4 separate regions of the Homo sapiens genome follow, and all the other regions are reported to be linked to region 1. The links are microRNA targets in miRTarBase. Many come from high-throughput screens and were not tested one by one. Region 1 holds a microRNA gene; each other region holds the end of a gene's coding sequence.
What was found. The annotated mature microRNA hsa-miR-1178-3p reads UUGCUCACUGUUCUUCCCUAG and lies in region 1 at 3,070-3,090, shown strand. An mRNA with a match to its seed (bases 2 to 7 or 8) in the 3' UTR can be bound and repressed. Matches are read on the target gene's strand: a 7mer-m8 pairs with bases 2 to 8, a 7mer-A1 pairs with bases 2 to 7 and ends in A, and an 8mer does both.

Region 2: the mRNA of CABP4 is a reported target of hsa-miR-1178-3p. Seed matches in the 3' UTR shown: 8mer at 2,576-2,583 and 7mer-A1 at 1,558-1,564.
Region 3: the mRNA of C9orf78 is a reported target of hsa-miR-1178-3p. Seed matches in the 3' UTR shown: 7mer-m8 at 936-942.
Region 4: the mRNA of TMEM169 is a reported target of hsa-miR-1178-3p. Seed matches in the 3' UTR shown: 7mer-A1 at 1,866-1,872.

What each region holds. Positions count from the first base shown.
Region 1 is chr12:119,712,194-119,716,738 of GRCh38, reverse strand. MIR1178 (microRNA 1178) reads left to right here and starts at 3,015; the gene lies at 3,015-3,105. CIT (citron rho-interacting serine/threonine kinase) reads left to right here. Exons shown (of 48, transcript NM_001206999.2): 33 at 2,405-2,542; 34 at 3,091-3,271; 35 at 3,445-3,536; 36 at 4,044-4,148; 37 at 4,392-4,545.
Region 2 is chr11:67,458,487-67,461,486 of GRCh38, reverse strand. CABP4 (calcium binding protein 4) reads right to left here. Exons shown (of 6, transcript NM_145200.5): 5 at 2,969-3,000; 6 at 1-2,856. The coding sequence ends at 2,828. Among named protein-coding and RNA genes, the nearest start is that of CABP4, 4.6 kb to the right of the region's middle. RefSeq lists enhancers at 1,256-1,305, 1,516-1,565.
Region 3 is chr9:129,825,547-129,828,546 of GRCh38, reverse strand. It overlaps C9orf78 (chromosome 9 open reading frame 78), which reads left to right. Exons shown (of 9, transcript NM_016520.3): 9 at 295-1,257. The coding sequence ends at 386. Among named protein-coding and RNA genes, the nearest start is that of TOR1A, 2.9 kb to the right of the region's middle. RefSeq lists a silencer at 203-497.
Region 4 is chr2:216,100,232-216,103,231 of GRCh38, reverse strand. It overlaps TMEM169 (transmembrane protein 169), which reads right to left. Exons shown (of 3, transcript NM_001142311.2): 3 at 449-3,000. The coding sequence ends at 2,690. Among named protein-coding and RNA genes, the nearest start is that of XRCC5, 7.6 kb to the left of the region's middle.

The sequences.
Region 1 (4,545 bases):
TGGGTTAAAGGTCATGTACATTTTGAGTGCTGGTAGTTTGTGCCAATGTTTATTTCTACCAACAGTGTGAGGAGTTTTCTTGCTGGTCTCAAATGTACTCCATTTACCTAGAGATTAAAAGGACTTAAGAAAAGGCCAAGGAAGCTGTTTGGAATGTCTTAGGAACACTAGGGTAGAGCTGTGGTTTAGCAATCATGGCATTGCAATCAAACCTGTTTTGGTTGTAAACCAGATGGTGTTTTCTTGTTGCTGTTGTTTTTCTTTAGCCTGAAGTCATTTTCTTCCTCCTGTGTTTATATAACTCCTTGAATCAAAGAGCTTTACTTTTTTTTTTTTTTTTTTTTTTTTTTTTTTTTTTTTGAGACAGAGTCTCGCTCTGTCGCCCAGGCTTGGAGAGCAGTGGTGTGATCTTGGCTCACTGCAACCTCTGCCTCCCAGGCTCAAGCGATTCTCATGCCTCAGCTTCCTGAGTAGCTGGGATTATAGGCATGCGCCACCATGCCTGGCTAATATTTTTATTTTTAGTAGAGATAGGGTTTCACCATGTTGGCCAGGCTGGTCTTGAACTCCTGACCTCAAGCGATCCACTTGCCTTGGCCTCCCAGAGTGCTGGCATTACAGGTTTGAGCCACTGTGCCCAGCCCAAGAGCTTTACTTTTAAACTCATTAAAATGGTGATGACAAGATAGAGGAAAGCATTGCTTCTGGCTGTGGTGTCCACTGAAATGTCCCTGAATAGTGATAGTACTACAGTATATTGCTCCTTTGTGTATACTGCACCACACAGTTTCAAAGTGCATTCCTGTTATTTATTCCTTGCACCTTTCCAAGAAAGGAAGGGGGGTGATGTTGTAAGGAGAGCCTACCGTATAGTCAGTCAATCTCCTACCAGTAACATGTTCTTAAAGCCTGATTCCTAATCACTGGATAATGGAGATTTTAAGTTGAGTCTTATAAATCTAGATGCATCTGTTAGTGTTAATACTTTCAAAATCTGTAACTAACCTGTTCTAATGGTTTTAACAGTTTCATTCAGATGTAATTTGCATACCGTACAGTTCGCTCATTAAAAATGTACAATTCAGTCTTTTTCAGTAAGTTTACAGGGTTGTGTAACCCTCATCACATTCTAATTTTTGAACAATTTTGACACCCCCCCACCCAAAAAATACTCCATACACATTATCAGTCCCCCGCCATTCTCCTTCCACTAATGTTCTTCTTAGCAACCACCAATCTACTTTCTGTCTCTGTCGATCTGCTCTCTTAGACATTTCATAAAGATGAATCATACTGCATGCGGCCTTTGTGTCTGGCTTCTTTCATGGAATGTAATGTTTTCAAGGTTCACCCATGTTGTAGCATGTATCAGAACTTCATTCCTTTCATGGCTGAATAATACTCCATTGTGTAGATGGCACATCTGATTATCCATTAATCCATTTTCATTAGTCCATTTTCACACTGCTGATAAAGACATGCCCAAGACTGGGTAATTTATAAAGAAAAAGAGGTGTAATAGACTCACAGTTCCATGTGGCTGGGGAGGCCTCACAATCATGGTGGAAGGCAAAAGGCATGTCTCATGTGGCGGTGACAAAAGAGAATAAGAACCAAGCGAGAGGGGTTTCCCCTTATAAAACTATCAGATCTTATTCACTACCACAAGAACAGTATGGGGGAAACCACCCGCATGATTCAGTTATCTCCCACCAAGTCCCTCCCAACACATGGGAATTATGGCAGCTGCAATTCAAGATGAGATTTGGGTGGGGACACAGCCAAACCATATCACCATTGGTGGACATTTGTGTTGTTTTCACTTTGTAGTTGTCATAAATTATGCTGCTGTGAACATTTATGTACAGATTTTTGTGGGTACATATGTTTTCAGTCCCCTTGGATATATAGCCAGGAGCGGAATTGCTGGGTTCTGGGGTAACTATGTTTAACCTTTTACAGAACTACCAGACTGAGTTCCAAAGTGGCTGCACCATTTTTACATTCTCACCAGGAATGTGTGAGGGTTCCAGTTTCTCCACATCCTCATCAACACTTATCTTCCTTTTTTTAGACTGTAGACATCCTAGTGGTTGTGAAGTGGTGTCTGCTTGGGGTTTTGATTCACATCTCTCTAACGACTGATAATGTTGAGCATCTTTTCATTTGCTCGTTGGCCATTTATCCTCTTCGGGGAGGTGTCTATTTAAATTCTTGGCCCATTTTAAAATTGGGTTGTCCTTTTATTATTGAGTTGTAAGAGTTCTTTATGTATTCTAGATATGAGTCCCTTATCAGAGATTTGATTTGCAAGTATTTTTTCCCTTTCTGTGGGTTGTCTTTTCACTTTCCTGATGGGATCATTTGCAGTACTCTAATGATTTTTTAAAACATTTTCCTCCAGAATTTAGTCGGCGTCTTAAGGAACGCATGCACCACAATATTCCTCACCGATTCAACGTAGGACTGAACATGCGAGCCACAAAGTGTGCTGTGTGTCTGGATACCGTGCACTTTGGACGCCAGGCATCCAAATGTCTCGGTAAGATCAGTAGTTGTGCATCTGTGCTGGGCACCTGTGCATCTCCAGCTTAAAAAGTCTATCAGGTGGAGGTGATTTTTTTCTAACTCATCATATAGTGCATTCATTTTCGAGCTTCTTACTTCAGTAGGAGGATGCTATTTTTCCCCTGTTGAAGCTGTGAGTTTATATATGTCTGCAGCTCATGACTCCAGCCTGCTGCTCAGAGTGCCTTAGGCTTTGCTAATTTCCAGCCCCTTTTTGTCAGGCTGGTCTCTCCCTACCTTTCCGCTGACTCCAACTGAAACATGCAAACGTGTTCTTTACACACCTGTTTGTGGGCGGTCTGGATTGAAGCCTGGAAAACTGGGTCAAGAGCACTTGGCACTTTTGTTTTCCCTTTCTGCAGGGGCCTGGCACCAGGGGAAGCTCAGGAGACTACCTGCAAGCCAGGGCCAGACTCTCTGGGCCCGGCTGGGGTAGAGAAGCCCAGGCGTTGGCTGGCAGAGGAAGGGAAGGGTCCAGGGTCAGCTGAGCATGCCCTCAGGTTGCTCACTGTTCTTCCCTAGAATGTCAGGTGATGTGTCACCCCAAGTGCTCCACGTGCTTGCCAGCCACCTGCGGCTTGCCTGCTGAATATGCCACACACTTCACCGAGGCCTTCTGCCGTGACAAAATGAACTCCCCAGGTCTCCAGACCAAGGAGCCCAGCAGCAGCTTGCACCTGGAAGGGTGGATGAAGGTGCCCAGGTACCATGTCAGGGTGGCTTGGGCTGGAGCAGGTGCTGGCACAAGCCACTCTGTCCCTGATGTTTTCTAGGGAAGTGTCTTTTCTAGGAACTCTGCCACCCCCTCATCCTATCCTCCAGCCGGATGTTTCTTCTGAGTTCAGACATTTTTCTTTTCCATCTTTCTTTCCCCAGGAATAACAAACGAGGACAGCAAGGCTGGGACAGGAAGTACATTGTCCTGGAGGGATCAAAAGTCCTCATTTATGACAATGAAGCCAGAGAAGGTAAATTAATAATTCAGGGGGAAGGTCATTGCACGTGGCTAACCCAGGTCTCCCCAGTGCTGGCGCGAAGGCTTTGTTTTTTGGACTGCCTTGCAAGCCTTCTACGCTTTTCCATTTTTGAAACTTACAAACCAAATGACTTCTCTAAAGGTTATTGGTGCGATACTCACATCTATAGGTCTCCCCCCTGAAGAACCCGCAGGGCGCTGCCCTGAAGATTCCACCTGCTAATACACCTTCCGAGAACTTCTGCCTCAGTCAACTAACCCATAAATCCGCATCGTCATCAGAAATTTGACTGTGCTACTCATCTGACACACTTTATTTTTTTTTATCTTCCCTCTCTGCCTTCTCTGCACACCTCTGTCCCTTCCTTGTTCTCGTGCGCCTCTCTTTACACACGTACCCTGTCTCTCTCTCCCTTGCTGTCTCTCTCGCTCTCTCTTCTCCCCTTGTTCTTGTTCCTGTTCTTTTGTTTTTCTTTCTGCCCTTCCTCTTTGCACCAAGCTGGACAGAGGCCGGTGGAAGAATTTGAGCTGTGCCTTCCCGACGGGGATGTATCTATTCATGGTGCCGTTGGTGCTTCCGAACTCGCAAATACAGCCAAAGCAGGTGAGGAGGAGCCGGAGGAGCCCCGCCCTGGAGGTGGGCCGGGCTTGGCCAATCAGCAGGGACAGAAGGGGTGGTACAGGGAAGATTGGCTCTGCAAAGGAGGCCCATCTTCCTCCGCTCCCCGCCTTGGCGGTAACTGGGATTTGCGTGGTTTGGTGGGCATCTTTGATCTCTCAGGCCCGTCCCTCCCAGTGGGAACGGGGGAAATCCACACCCAATCCTGTGCTCTCTGAAATCTCCTAGATGTCCCATACATACTGAAGATGGAATCTCACCCGCACACCACCTGCTGGCCCGGGAGAACCCTCTACTTGCTAGCTCCCAGCTTCCCTGACAAACAGCGCTGGGTCACCGCCTTAGAATCAGTTGTCGCAGGTGGGAGAGTTTCTAGGGAAAA
Region 2 (3,000 bases), not on the chromosome of region 1:
GGGATATATCCAGATATATATTTATTTTTATTTACCCTACTCTGACTTCAGTTTGTTCCTTCAATCTGGGGAGTTGAAGTCTGTGGAAGTCTTTATGGAAAATTTTCAGCCATTATCTCTTTGGTTATTGCTTCTTGTTCATTCTCTATGTATGTCCTCCGTCTGAGACTCCCAAGGACTTATCTGTCTTTTTCTTTGAGACAGGGTCTCTTGCTCTGTCACCAAGGCTGGAGTGCAGTGGCACGATCACTGCAGCCTCCAACTCCTGGGCTCAAATGATCCTCTCACCTCAGCCTCCTGAATAGCTGGAACTACAAGCATGAGCCACTACACCCAGCTTATTTTTTTATTATTTTTTTTAAGAGGCAGGGTCTTGCTGTTAGGCTGGTCTCAAACTCCTGGCCTCAAGTGATCCTCCTGCCTTAGCCTCCCAAAATGCTGGGATTACAGGCATAAGCCACCACACCCAGTCTTCCAGTGACCTTTTTTTTTTTTTTTTTCCGAGACGGAGTCTCGCTCTGTAGCCCAGGCTGGAGTGCAGTGGTGCAATCTCGGCTCACTGCAAGCTCCGCCTCCTGGGTTCACGCCATTCTCTTGCCTCAGCCTCCCTAGTAGCTGGGACTACAGGCGCCCGCCACCACGCCCAGCTAATTTTTTTTTGTATTTTTAGTAGAGATGGGGTTTCACTGTGTTAGCCAGGATGGTCTCGATCTCCTGACCCTGTGACCCGCCCGTCTCAGCCTCCCAAAGTGCTGGGATTACAGGCGTGAGCCACCACACCCAGCCTTCCAGTGACTTTTAACTACCCTGTAATATTTTCCATCCTTTTGTCTCTCAGTGTTACATTATAAGTGATTTCTTAGATATAGCTTCCAGTTCATTAATCTTTAAATTGTGTTTAATCTGCTGTTTAGCTTATCCATTATTTTTTCATTCCAATGGCTGTGTGTGTGTGTGTGTGTGTGTGTGTATATATAAAATATACTTTATTTTTTTAACAGAAGCCATGGTTTGTTTTTTTCTTTTTGACGGATTCTCACTCTGTTACCCACGCTGGAGTGCAGTGGTGCGATCTCGACTCACTGCAACCTCTGCCTCCTGGGCTCAAGTGATCCTCCCACCTCAGCCTGTAGAATACCTGGGACCACAGATGCAAGCACCACCACGCCTGGCTAATTTTTGTATTTTTAGTAGAGACAGGGTTTCACCATGTTGCCCAGGCTGGTCTCGAATTCCTGAGCTCAAGCAACCCACCCACCTTGGCCTCCCAAAGTGCTGGGATTCCAGGCATGAGCCATGCGCCTGGCCTGTTGGGTTACTTTTTAAATCTTCCGGTTCTCTCTTCATACTATCCTGTTACTGCATGTTGATCTCTCTTCCCCTTTTAGCCGTCTTTTATTTGCATGTATCTTGTGGTCTCTTAGGCGGCTGTATTATGTACACTGAGATGCCAGTCCTCTTGTTTTTGTCTCTGTCTCGTCTCCTTCATGGTGGTTTCTTTACTTTTATAATCAGTATGGTTTTTTTGTTTTGTTTTTGAGACGGAGTCTCGATCTGTTGCTCAGGCTGGGGTGCAATGGTGTGATCTCAGCTCACTGCAGCTCCACCTCCCGGGCTCAAGCGATTCTCCTGCCTCAACCTCCGAGTAGCTGAGATTACAGGTGCATGCTACCTCGCCCAGTTAATTTTTGTATTTTTAGTAGAGATGGGGTTTCACCATGTTGGTCAGGCTGGCCTCAAACTCCTGACCTCAGGTAATTCACCCGCCTCAGCCTCCCAAAGTGCTGGGATTACAGGCGTGAGCCACCACTCCCAGCCCAATAATCTGTAATTTTTATCACAAGTTCCCCTTTGGGAGCGGCAGGGTTTTTTTCCAGTTTTTCACACCCTGGAGAGAGACTACACGCCTGCTTGAAGGGCAGGCCCTGGAGTTCCAGGCTCTTTAGGGCAGCTGTTTCCACTCTGGGCCCTGAACATCTGTATCCTTGCCACTTTCTATGACTGGTCAGTGCAGACAGATTAATATCTTAGCCTTTGGAGACCCTGGAATATATCCGGGGGGTTTGTTTCTTGCTCCCCAGACTCATATGGTTCTTCTGTCACTCATGGTTGTAGGAGTCCAGGCGGCCAAGCCTCCATCCAGATCTGAAACCCCCACAGCGTCAGCTCCCTCTTACAACCCCAGCTTTGATTTCTTTGTCTTTGATACATGGAGCCATCCCTTTCTTTCTTTCAAGCTCACTTTTTTTACACTTGGGTTTTTTGGTTTTTTGTTTGTTTTTTTGTCTTTTATTTTTCCTTTTTGTGGAGAATGGGGTCTCAGTATATTGCCCAGGCAGGTCTTGCACTCCTGGGCTCAAGCTATCCTCCCGCTTCTGCCCCCTGACAGCTGGGCTTACAGGTGTGAGCCACTGCACCCGGCTCAAGTTCATTAAAAAAAAAAAAAATTATAAACATAAGTAGTGGAAGGGGTCCAGCCATCCTCTCCATTCATCATGCCACTGGGGGGTCCCCACTGAATGCTGCCAGTGCCAGGGAACTCCCTACCTCCCAGAGGTCTGGAGAGACCCAAATCTTGCTCACACTGAGGAACGGTGGGCAGCTGAGAGCAGGTCTTCTCCAGGCAGCTTGAGTAGGAGGAGGTAAGGATGAGGGTGGGCAGGTAACATAACAAGCCAACATTGAGGCCAGGTGTTTTCAGGGATAGAAGTAGTCTGGGGGCTGCTGGGTCTCCATCTCCATCCTGGAGGCTCCTGGGGGAGGCCTGCAGCCTGGGTCTGGCTGGTGTCTGGGGCCGCAGGGGCAACAGATATTCCCTCCTGGAGCCTCAGTGGCGGGAGAGCATCATCACAAACTCTGCGGGAGAGAAGGGCAGGGCTTGGGTCAGTCCACGTCAGGGATCCCAGGAGGTGCTGGGCTCAGCCTAGGCCCTGGAAGCACGGGAGGGTTTTCCGGGAAGGAGACTCACCGTCAAAGTCTACGGTGCCATCCCCATTGAGG
Region 3 (3,000 bases), not on the chromosome of region 1:
GAGGCTGAGGCAGGAGAATCACTTGAACTCGGGAGTTGGAGGTTGCAGTGAGCTGAGATCATGCCATTACACTCTAGCCTGGGCAACAGGGTGAGACTCCATCTCAAAAAAAAGAAAAGAAAAGAAAAAAAAAAAGACAAATACGTATCTACTGAGGCCCTACTGTGTTCACTGGGTTAGGCGCTGGGGCTCCTGTGGGGAAGGAAACAGGCAGTTGTCTTTGCCTGCATGGAGTAAAGTCTAGCAGTGGGTTCCAGCATGGCAAACCACCTTTCCTGTTCTTTTCCTTCTCAGGGTCCCCTCCTAACCGCAAGCGTCCTGCTAACGAGAAGGCAACTGATGACTATCATTATGAGAAGTTCAAGAAAATGAATAGGCGGTACTGAGTTGTGCAGAGTGGGATGTAAATATCGCCTTCCTCTCCCTATATCCCTCCCATGAAAAATGGCTTCCTGGCCGGGCGTGGTGGCTCCTGCCTGTAATCCCAGCACTTTGGGAGGCCGAGGTGGGCGGATCACCTGAGGTCGGGAGTTTGAGACCAGCCTGACCAACATGGAGAAACCCAGTCTCTACTGAAAATACAGAAAAGTTAGCCAGGCGTGGTGGCACATGCCTGTAATCCCAGCTGCTCAGGAGGCTGAGGCAGGAGAATTGCTTGAACCCAAGAGGCGGAGGTTGTGGTGAGCCGAGATTGCACCTTTGTACTCCAGCCTGGGCAACGAGCAAAAAACTCTGTCTCAAAAAAAAAAAAAAAAAAAAAAAAGAAAAAGAAAAATGGCTTCCAGGACAGAGCATGCTCATTTGCTGGCGGACAGTTCCAGAAACAGACCCTGTTAGTCCTTCTACTTACCTGCTGGATTTTTCAAGCACTAAATTTATAACTTTTTGAAACAAAATAATGTGTAATTTTCCATTTGGGGGCAAACTCTATTCTTGTGAGCATTATTAAATCTTGTTTGTAAATATATTGTCTTTCTCTTAATATTTGCTCTGGGTCAGGAAGAAGCTGTTCACGGTGTGATAATACTCTTTAGATTGTGCTTTCATTATTATAGATGCATCATGTCTTCTGCTTTCACGTGTCTGGGATGGGGTCAGAAATGCATCCTCCAGCTGACAGAAAAATCCAGGATGAGATCAGAAGGATACTGGTGTTTTCTGACTTTTACAAAATTACTTGTTTGTTTTCATTAAAAAAAAAGCATAAACTATGTTTCTTATTACTATTAGAATTATTAAATTTCAAAATGAATCCAACCTTATTGTTTGTATTATGTTTCTTATACCAGCATCAGGTAATGTTTTTAAAGCCCATGGTTTGGGTAGCCTAAATGTAAAACTGAATTACTGAGATGGATTTTCTCATTTATTTCAAACAGTGAGCTATGATTGGACCACTGCAGCATAGACATGCTGCAACCTGCTGTCAAGTACCTTCTTACCTGTGCCCTCATTTTTCCTGAGGCATCCACAGGGGTCCAAAAGAGGAAAGAGCAGATTGGCTGACTTCTGGGTGGATTTAGAGCAGGTATTGTGGTTACAGTGGTTTGGCCCAGGAGTCAGATCTGAGCCCACCTCGCAGCTTACTACTTGTGTCCTTGGACAGATCCTTTTCACTCTTAGCCTCAGTTTTCTCATCTGTAAAATGGAGATTTTTTTTTTTCCTCCACTTGAATATGGTCAGTGAAGGCAGGAACCATGTGTGCCTAATTTTTAAATTTGAATCCCCAGGGCATAGCCCATAATCTGACAGATAGGCAGTCCTCAAAACTATGAATGATCCCTATAGTGTTTGGCTTGTAACAGGTGCACAAAAGTATTTTAAATCCAATACGAAAAAGTCGAAACTTAAAAAATATTTTCAGGATATTTCAACAAACATTTACAGGTCCCAGCGATGTGCAGGGGTAACCCAAGATGAATACTAAAGGCCTAGCACATCTGGCACACAGCAACGCAACACGTGTTTATGGGATGAACAGGCAAATAAGTGGATGGTCAACAGTTCTCACTTGCCAGAGTTCCCTTTGCTAGAAAATGAGTAATCTTTTATCCAGCTTAAAAGTGGCTGCCAGATGGAGGGAGCTGGTTCTCTCACTGTTGGGGTGGGAATTCACAGATAAACAAGGGGAGGAGGCTCCAATGATCTGTGTAATGGATTAGAGTTGGAGATGTCAGCACGAGCTCATGTTTAGCTTAATATAGGTACAGATGTTTACCTATAAAAATATTTATAGATATGTGTGTGTTTAACAGTATATACACACATTTTTTTCTGTCAGCTGAGACTGAAAGAAATGACATCTCAATAGCAAGAAGCACACCTAGCACCCAGACCTTGGTTTCTCTTTTTTTTTTTTTTTTTTTTTTTTGATACGAAGTCTCGCTCTGTCACCCAGGCTGGAGTGCAGTGGTGCGATCTCGGCTCACTGCAACCTCCACCTCCCAAGTTCAAGGAATTCTCCTGTTTCAGCCTCCCATGTAGCTGAGACTACAGGCACACGCAACCATGCCTAGCTAATTTTTTTGTATTTTCAGTAGAGATGGGGTTTCACCATATTGGTCAGGCTGGTCCCAAACTCCTGACCTCAGGTGATGCACCTGCCTCAGCCTCCCAAAATGCTGGATTACAGGCATGAGCCACCATGCCCAGCCAGTTTCTAATGCCATTTTACAATGAAAGGAATCAGGGTTCCTCGTAGAAAATAGGATTCTAGGACTGGGGCAGGAAATACAAGATGAGCCCGGAGTATCCTGTAGTGTCAGAAAGGAAAGAGGCACTCAAACCCAAATAAGCTGGTATATACACTGGGTGTATGTCAAAGGAGCACAAGGAACCACTCAAATTCCCAGTGGCCAAAATGAGAACAATTTGAAAAAAAAATTAGTACTGTAGTATAACAAAGGATAAAATAACAATGGTCCACACTGATATAAATGATTGAATACATGGGGGAGAAGAAACAAATCTCCCATGCAGAATTCCAAATAATTTCTGTA
Region 4 (3,000 bases), not on the chromosome of region 1:
TAGTCTAGGCTTTTACATACCTCTATAGAACCCCTTTGAAATGGTTTTAATTTACAAGCCTATTTCTTCCACTAGATGATGAGCCCAACTAGGATGAAGGCCATGTCAACTTTATCTAGGTATCTCTTGGGTATGATCTCATCATCATCCCACACTCTTCCATGGCACCACAGCCACTTTACCTGTGTCCTAATCACAACTTTTTGGCTTTTCCCATTGGTTTCCCCAACCCCAGAAAAATGGGACAAATGTGGTTGCAAGTTTCTAGTGTGGTTTGTGAAAACAGTCCACCTAAATAGAATTCCCCAAAATTAGTGAAGCATGGAAAGAGTCCAGACACAAGGATTCATATTAAAATCATTACATACATATAGGACAGCCATCATGCTCACCCTTTTTCTGCAAACCATAGCATTCAAAGCAATTTTGAAGAGCCTCAAAGACAAAATGAGCAAAAGTTAATCAGACTTTATTTTTATTTTCTTTGTCTTCATTTAATTGTTCATATCTCTGCTAATGCACCATAGAGCACCAAGATTAACACTAAAACTGTTGGGCACTTTTTTTTTCTTGTCAAGCTAATAATAGTTATTTAAAAAAAAAAAAAAGAGAGAGTTCCTCTGAAGGTGGAGCTCAGCACCATACATCAGGCAAATGTCCTGGGCTCTCTGTGGGGAGCATGACAAACTCCTCTGGTTTGATTCATCGCAGCAGTTCTCTCAACAGCTTTGTTTTGAGACATGAACAAGAAAAGAGCACCAGCTATTCTTATAAGGACCCAAATCTCCAAATTCTGCTGACCTCTTAGGAGTTGATATTTTGAAATTAGAAGGACACCCTTAGGAGTGATTTTTTTTTTTAAGTTCAGAGTCTGTTAATCTGTATTAATCTAGTTTACACTCCCTACAGGCCAGGTAGACACAAGTTTCTCAGCACAGCAAAGATCATGTCTGTGGTTAAACTCAGAAAGGTCTGAGGGAGTAAAGCTCTGAGTGAGGTTTTGCCAAACAACAGAAGGCTAAATCTGGCTTCTTTGTACTTAGGGCTACTGATCGCTGTTGGAGGAAACTTTGGCAGATGCAATTCCTCCCTTCCTGGTCTTTAATCTAGGTTAAATATCACCACCTCGTCCCACCTCCACCACCAGGACAAAGAGTTATGCTACTATTATAAATTGTACTCTCCTGTCCACTATTCCTTTCCAAAAACAAATCACATGACATTACAGAAGCTTAATTGCAAAGTACGTGAGGTGCTAATATCGATGTATAGCATATTCAAAGTATATGTAGCTAATATCTATATATAAATTCTCTGTGTAAGATTCAGGCCTAAATAAATAAATGAATAAACAAATGAATGAATAAATAAATAAATAAAACCATATTAGCAGTTTGGGGGTTCTGAATGTATTTAAATGATCATTGTGAGGCAAAGATTCTGACTTGCCTACCAAGATAACCATTCTTGCCTACAATCCCAGCATTTTGGGAGGCCGAGGCAGGCGGATCACCTGAGGTCAGGAGTTCAAGACCAGCCTGGGCACATGGTGAAACCCCATCTCTACTAAAAAAAAAATACAAAAATTAGCCGGGTATGGTGGCACGCACCTGTAATCCCAGCTACTGGGGAGGCCAAGGCACAAGAATTGCTTGAACCCAGGAGGCGAAGGTTGCAGTGAGCCGAGATAGTGCCACTGCACTCCAGCCTCGGCAACAGAGTGAGACTCCGTCTCTAAAGCGAAACAAAACAAAACAAAACAAAACCCAAATAACCATTCTTCCTTTTTCTTGCCAATTAGCGTGAACCCAGTATTTAGCTGAGAATATAGCTACCCAGCCAAACAACTACATTTCCAGCCTCTTTTGCTCATGACATCATGTGACTGAGGTCTTGCCAATGAGATATAAGAAGAATCGAGTGGGACTTCTGGGAAGTCTCCTTGAACAGGAAGGGTGTGTGCTTCTCTGCCCTTTCCTCTATTTTATCAGAAACATGGATGTGATGGCTGAAGATGTAATCAGCACTGGGATGTTGGGGATAAGGGTGAGAAGGGTCACATCCTACTAATGGTAGAGAAATAGAAGAAGCCTGGGACCTGGATTACTTCACAGGGTCCCAGGATGGTCTGCCTCCAGACTTCTTCTGCACAAGAAAGAAATACACTTCTATCTTGTTTAAGCCACTGATATTTTAGGGTTTTAATTCTATGCAGCTAAATCTAAATCTAAATGATACACACAAATCTTTACCTTCTGCTACACTGTGGTAGTCCAGCTTCCTAAATGTCTCACTCCATCCCTGTCTATTATCTTGGTGGATTTGGTTACCCCGAGGTTCTTTATTCTCCCTGACACATTTAGTCACATACTCCCCTCAGTTCCAGGCACCAGTAACACTTCCAGGCTCCCAAAACGACACACAGCAGAGTTCCATTGTCCTAAATAAATGGTGATTTTAGGGCAGGGAATCAAAAAGAGTTTGTCCATTGGGTGAACTGCTTTGGCACAATTGCTTGTCTGCTCCATGCCCTCCTGGAACCCTCAAGATGGTAAAACTGATCAGTATGGACTCTGATTTCCCAGAAGAACTGCGGAGAGTAGGGGGTAATTTAAAGAAATAATCTGCTGGAATTTTAAGATGATATATAGGCTACTGGGGCCAGAGGAGGGAGTAAGTTGTTGGGAGTTTAGACCGTGGAGGTTTCTACTTCTTGGATGGGGTCCTTGTTGGAGAGAGTGCTTGAGATATTGTCGGATTCAAGCAACTCCACAATGCTGTAGGGAGAACAGTCCTCCAGACCCAGCTTGCTGCAGAGCCAGCCACAGAAGCCTTTCTCCATGTCCCGGGCAGCTTGCCACCATGCTTCCCAGGACCACGAGAGCTGGACCACAGCAGCGTAGAGGCCGAGGGAAGAAGCCATGGCCATGATGAGCACTGGATAGAAGAGAACGAGGCAAGGGCAATACGAGATCTTGTGCCAGAAGGTCCTTTCCTCAT